Regions from separate parts of the Homo sapiens genome. Here region 1 is linked to region 2. The links come from fine-mapping of genetic effects on gene expression. A gene starts in region 2. The other region holds a variant in brackets. All regions are shown on one strand. Distances are from middle to middle.

Region 1 (2,926 bases), 21 kb after region 2:
ACTCACTATATTCATTATATATTACACATAATCCTATATATATATTCACTATATTCATTGTATATATATAGGATTGTGGATACTGGATTATATATTGTAAATTAATAGAAGTGAGCTCCTGAAAGCATTCACCTCCTCTGGCTTGTCATGTGGACTTGCTGTAGTCATAACTGTTAATTAGCAAAGACTAAATTGGTGCTAAACCTAGTAGAAAAAGTGAGGAACAGATCTGAGTCACCATATATATGCCATCTAACGAAGTGTGATTATTACAGTCATGATGATTCTAACAACTGTACCTATTATATATTATAATAATTATTATAATTGCATGAGTATGTGTGAGTGTAAAGCCCCTGTCCTTAAAAAGCACACATAACCCTGGAATAGGACTGGCAAAATTGTTGTGAGCATTTCTCAGGCTTTGGGACAGGATGCCTGTTTCTCAGGGTGCTTCCTGTGAAGCGATGAATTCAATGGATAGAGAGATTTAGATCTCCTGGGTAAGCAATGGGTTTTGTTCTAGTCTAGTTACACCTCGCAGCTCTGCCCCACAAAGATACAGGTTATTAAATACGATGAAGAAAACATCAGGATGGCTTTATGATTGTATGTTAAAAGCACATAGATTTGGTTCAGTGAGCTTGTCGAGTTTTTCTTATAATAAAGAATGGTGCTACTTGGGAGGCTCAGGAGGGAGGCTCGCTTGAGCCCAGGAGTTGGAAGCTGCAGTGAGCTATGATTGCGCCACTGCACTCCAGTCTGGGTGACAGAAGGAGACAGTGTCTTAATTAAAAAAAATAAAAATAAAAAAAGAATGGTGCCAAGAAGCTGAGCTGCCTTTCAACACTGGTTAGACTGGTTAGATCAGTGAATGTGTCAGCAGTGAATTTTACCTCATTTTCTGCTAGAGGCTTCCGGTTTTGTGTTTCTTTGTAATGCTGCCTGTCAGACAGGTGCGCACGTAGAAGACATTCAATGAAAATTTCACATAGGAAGAGACCTTTTCCTCCAGAGAGGTTCCTATTTTTTCTTAAAGAGTCTAGACATATGGTCTTGACACTGGCATTTGGCATAGGGCCATTTTTCTATTCTGTAACAACCGCCTCAGTCTCATGATTGATCTTACGGCAAGGGCTTCATTTTTGTTTTGTGCTCAGAAACACCCAAGGGGACTTTTGTCTAAGAAGTGATTCTCAACTCTGCCTCTGGCCATTTTTCTACTCACACTCCTCTCTTTCTTCCTCTATATGGGAAATCACGGGGTAAAGTTTTTTAGCTTGTTCCTCAAGGATCATTATAATGTGGATAAAACCTGTATTTTTCTTTTCTTTTTCTTTTTCTTTTTTATTTTTTGGAGACAGAGTCTCACCCTGTCACCGAGGCTGGAGTGCAGTGGCACAATCTCAGCTCACTGCAATCTCCACTTCCTCGTCTCTGATCCCCCGACTTCAGCCTCCCGAGTAGGTGGGACTACAGGCATGCACCACCATGGAGTGCAGTGGCGTGATCTCGGCTCACCACAACCTTCGCCTCCTGGGTTTAAGCGATTCTCCTGCCTCAGCCTCCCACGTAGCTTGGATTACAGGCGCCCACCACCATGCCCAGCTAATGGTTTTGTATTTTTAGCAGAGACGGGGTTTCACCATGTTGGCCAGGCTGGTCTTGAACTCCTGACCTCAAGTGATCCGCCCACCTCGGCCCC[C/T]CAAAGTGCTGGGATTACAGGCGTGAGCCACCGTGCCCGGCCAATATGGTTGGGTTTTAACTCATCTTTGGTTGTGTCGTAATCTTTGGTTTTAGGTGGCAAAGGAATGGGAGGATGGGAAGGAGGTATCCGTGTGCCAGGGATATTCCGGTGGCCGTCAGTCTTGGAGGCTGGGAGAGTGATCAATGAGCCCACCAGCTTAATGGACATCTATCCGACGCTGTCTTATATAGGCGGAGGGATCTTGTCCCAGGACAGGTATGGAAACAGTGTTTGCTCCTAACCTAGGGTGATATATTTGAACATAAGTGGATATACTTGATAATTCTATGTGTGTGTGTATGTACATAGTATATTACTTAATTATCAATATTCTGCCCATAGGGCCAGATGTCTTTCTCCCCTTGGTGCGTGGTGGAATATTTTGTTTTCTTCTTAGAGTATACCTTAATATCCTTTGTCATATTACACTTATGCCTGTGTGTGTTTGACTGTTCTCATGGATGGGATCTGATTCTCATACATCATCACATCCCTCACAGCTTCTAGACCATTATGCAATTAAGTGTTAAATGATTACTGAATAAAAACATGTATGCCTAGAGCAGGTGCGGTGGCTCGTGCCTGTAATCCTAGCACTTTGGGAGGTCAAGGCTGGCGGATCACTTGAAGTCAGGAGTTCGAGACCAGCCTGGCCAACATGGTGAAACCCCCATCTCTACTAAAAATACAAAAATCAGTCTGGTGTGGTGGCACGTGCCTGTAATCCCAGCTACCTGGGAGGCTGAGGTGGGAGGATCGCTTGAACCCAGGAGGTAGAGATTGCAGTGAGCCGAGATCTCGTCACTGCACTCCAGCCTGGGTGACAGGGTGATGCCCTGTTTCAAACAAAAACAAAAACGAAAACAAAACACGTATGTGTAATTGCATGTGTGCTAAATGATATTATTCTTTCTGGTTTGCACTTTGTCTATGAGCTTATTTTTAATTTAATTTAAATTTATTTTTTTTGAGACAGAGTCTCGTCCTGTCAGCCAGGCTGGAATGCAGTGGTGTGATCTCGGCTCAGTGCAATCTCTGCGTCCCGGGTTCAAGTGATTCTTCTGCCTCAGCCTCCTGAGTAGCTGGGACTACAGGCGGGCGCCACCATGCTCAGCTAATTTTTGTATTTTTAGTAGAGATGGGGTTTCAGCATGTTGGCCAGGATGGTCTCGATCTCTT
Region 2 (2,926 bases):
AGGTCAGGAGTTCAAGACATGCCCGGCCAACATGGCGAAACGCCATCTCTACCAAAAAAAATACAAAAATCAGCTGGGCATGGTGCCACACACACATACACACACACACACACACACCCCTATAAGCCTCATAAATATGAACAATTATTATTATTTTTTGAGACAGAGTCTCTCTCTGTTGCCCAGGCTGCAGTGCAGTGGCGCGATCTTGGCTCGCTGCAACCTCCGCCTCTCAGGTTCAGGCAATTATCCCTGCTTCAGCCTCCCGAGCAGATGGTATTACTTTTTTTTTTTTTTTGAGACGGAGTCTCACTCTTGCTACCCAGGCTGGAGTGCAGTGGTGCAATTTCAGCTCACTGCAACCTCCGCCTCCTGGGTTCAAGTGATTCTCCTGCCTCAGCCTCTGAAGTAGCTGGGACCACAGGCGCGTGTCACCATGCCCGGTTAATTTTGTATTTTTAGTAGAGATGGGGTTTCACCATGTTTGTCAGGCTGGTCTCAAACTCCTGACCTCAGGTATTCCACTTGCCTTGGCCTCTCAAAGCACTGGGATTACAGGCATGAGCCACTGTGCCCGGCCTTGGTTACATTTTTATTCAATAAAGTAAACAAAAAAGTTTTTTTTGAGATAGGGTCTTGCTCTATTGTCTAAGCTGGAGTGCAGTGGTGCATTCATAGCTCACTGCAATCCTGACCTCTCAGGCTCAAGCAATCCTCTCATCTCAGCCTCCTGAGTAGCTGGGATTATAGGAATGCATCACTATGCCCAGCTATTTTTGTATTGTTTGTAGAGATGGGGTTTCACCATGCTGCCCAGGCCAGTCTCAAACTTCTGGGCTCAAATGATCCACCCGCATTGGCCTTCCAAAGTGCTGGGATTACAGGCATGAGTCACAGCACCCGGCAAAATTCAATTTTTAGAGCTTACCCTCAACTGTAACCCCTGTTATAAATTTTAAGCCTCTGATGTCACTAAAACAATATCAAAAGATGTTATAAGAGTTAAACCTCATCATGCTTGCAAAATGAATTGGTAAAATATGATGCCATATTCGTATAGAACAATGGTCTCCAACATTTTTGGCACCAGGGTCTGGTTTTGTGGAAGACGGTTTTTCCACAGACAGGAAGGGGGTGCAGGATGGTTTCAGGATGATTCAAGCACATTACATTTATTGTGCACTTTATTTTTATTATTATTACACGATAATATATAATGAAATAATTATACAACTCATCGTAGTGTATGATCAGTGGGTGCCCTAAGCTTGTTTTCCTGTGACTAGATGATCCCATCTGGGGGTGATGGAAGACAGAGACAGATCATCAGGCATTAGATTCTCATAAAGAGCACACAACCTAGATCCTTTGCATGCACAGTTCACAATAGAGTTCTCGCTCCTATGAGAATCTAATGCTGCTACCGATCTGACAGGAGGTGGAGCTCAGGCAGTGATGCAAGCAATGGGGAGCGGCTGTCAATACAGATGAAGCTTCACTCATTTGCCCACCACTCACCTCCTGCTGTGTGGCCTGGTTGCTAACAGGCTACGGACCAGTACTGGTCCATGGCCAGGGGATTGGGGACCCCGGTATAGAACATTAGTTTTTGTTGTTGTTGTTTAATCTAGTTTCTGAGTAAGACAACACAGGTACGTTGTACAGTGAGAACTGATAACGAATATCACTGTTTCATATGTTAAGTTATCTAAAATGCAAATGTTAATTGATAGTGCCTGGTTTTTTGCTTGCTTGTTTGTTTGCTTATTTCTAAAAATGCTTTCAGGAGCTGCTGGCTGTCAGTGTCCCTGTGCTGTTTGTTTTGCGGTGTTGATGGCACATTTATGACAAGAAACGCCAGACCCAACATTGTCCTGCTGATGGCAGATGACCTTGGAGTGGGGGATTTGTGCTGCTACGGTAATAACTCAGTGAGGTAAAGATGGACTCTGACCCCCTCCCTGTATGTGGGAGTCTCCCTTACCACAGTGTTCACGTCTTTGCCGTTGCAGAGAAGGGTTTCTGGAGAGAAGTCATTGTCTGATGTTATCGGCAGGAATAGCAGAGGTCACTGGGGAAAATTGCAAAATGTCAGGAGACCACTTAACCTCCCAGTTTCCTTAGATTCTAGCTGTTGGTGGTGGCGTTTTCATTGTTGGGCAAAATTTACATTTAAAAATTGGCCTTTTTTGATCAGGCATGGCGGCTCAAGCCTATAATCCCAGCACTTTGGAAGGCCAAGGTGGGAGCATTGCTTGAGCCCAGGAGTTTGCGATCAGCCTGGGCAACACAGGGAGACCCCGTCTCTACAAAAATAATAAAAAAAAAAATCTACTGGGACATGGTGGCGTGTGTCTGTGGTCTCAGCTACTCAGGAGGCTGGGGCAGGAGGATTGCCTGAGCAAGGGAGATTGAGGCTGCAGTGAGCTATGATCCCACCACTGCACTCCAGCCTGGGTGACAGAGGGAGACTCTGTTTAAAAAAAAAAAAAAAAATCACCTTTTAACCATTTTAAAGTGAACAATTCAGTGGCATTTGGTACATTCACAGTGTTGGACAACCGTCACCCCCACAAAGAAGACCCCCATTTCCCATCCTATCCCCATGCCCTGTTAACCACAAATGTACCCTCTGTCTCTATGGATGTGTCTCTTCTTAGAATTTCATATACAAGTAATCATATAAAGTATTTATTTTCTCAGGCTGCCGTGACAAAGGTCCACAGACTGGTTGGCTTAGATAACATCAGCTTATTCTCTCACAGTCCTGGAGGCTGGAAGTTCAAGATCAAAGTGTGGGCAGGGCTGGTTCCTCCTGAGGCCTCTCTCCTGTCCTTGTAGATGCCGTCTTCTCCCTGTGTCTTCACAGGGTCGTCCCTCTGTGTGGGTCTGTGTCCTCATCTCTTCTTCTTATGAGGTGTCTTAG

Which allele goes with the higher level. Positions count from the first base shown, and alleles are read on the strand shown. Sizes are in standard deviations (SD) of each study's normalised expression.
As copies of T replace C in region 1, the expression in breast of the gene that starts at base 1,778 in region 2 goes down (moderate effect, 0.48 SD a copy in GTEx).

What was found. PIP is the estimated chance that this variant, and not a neighbour inherited with it, causes the effect.
Region 1: its variant is fine-mapped to the expression of ARSH in breast (GTEx, PIP 0.93).

What each region holds. Positions count from the first base shown.
Region 1 is chrX:3,025,513-3,028,438 of GRCh38, forward strand. ARSH (arylsulfatase family member H) reads left to right here. Exons shown (of 9, transcript NM_001011719.2): 7 at 1,801-1,963. Among named protein-coding and RNA genes, the nearest start is that of ARSF, 14 kb to the right of the region's middle. The variant C/T (reference allele first, on the strand shown) is at 1,706.
Region 2 is chrX:3,004,769-3,007,694 of GRCh38, forward strand. It overlaps ARSH (arylsulfatase family member H), which reads left to right and starts at 1,778. Exons shown (of 9, transcript NM_001011719.2): 1 at 1,778-1,936. The coding sequence starts at 1,845.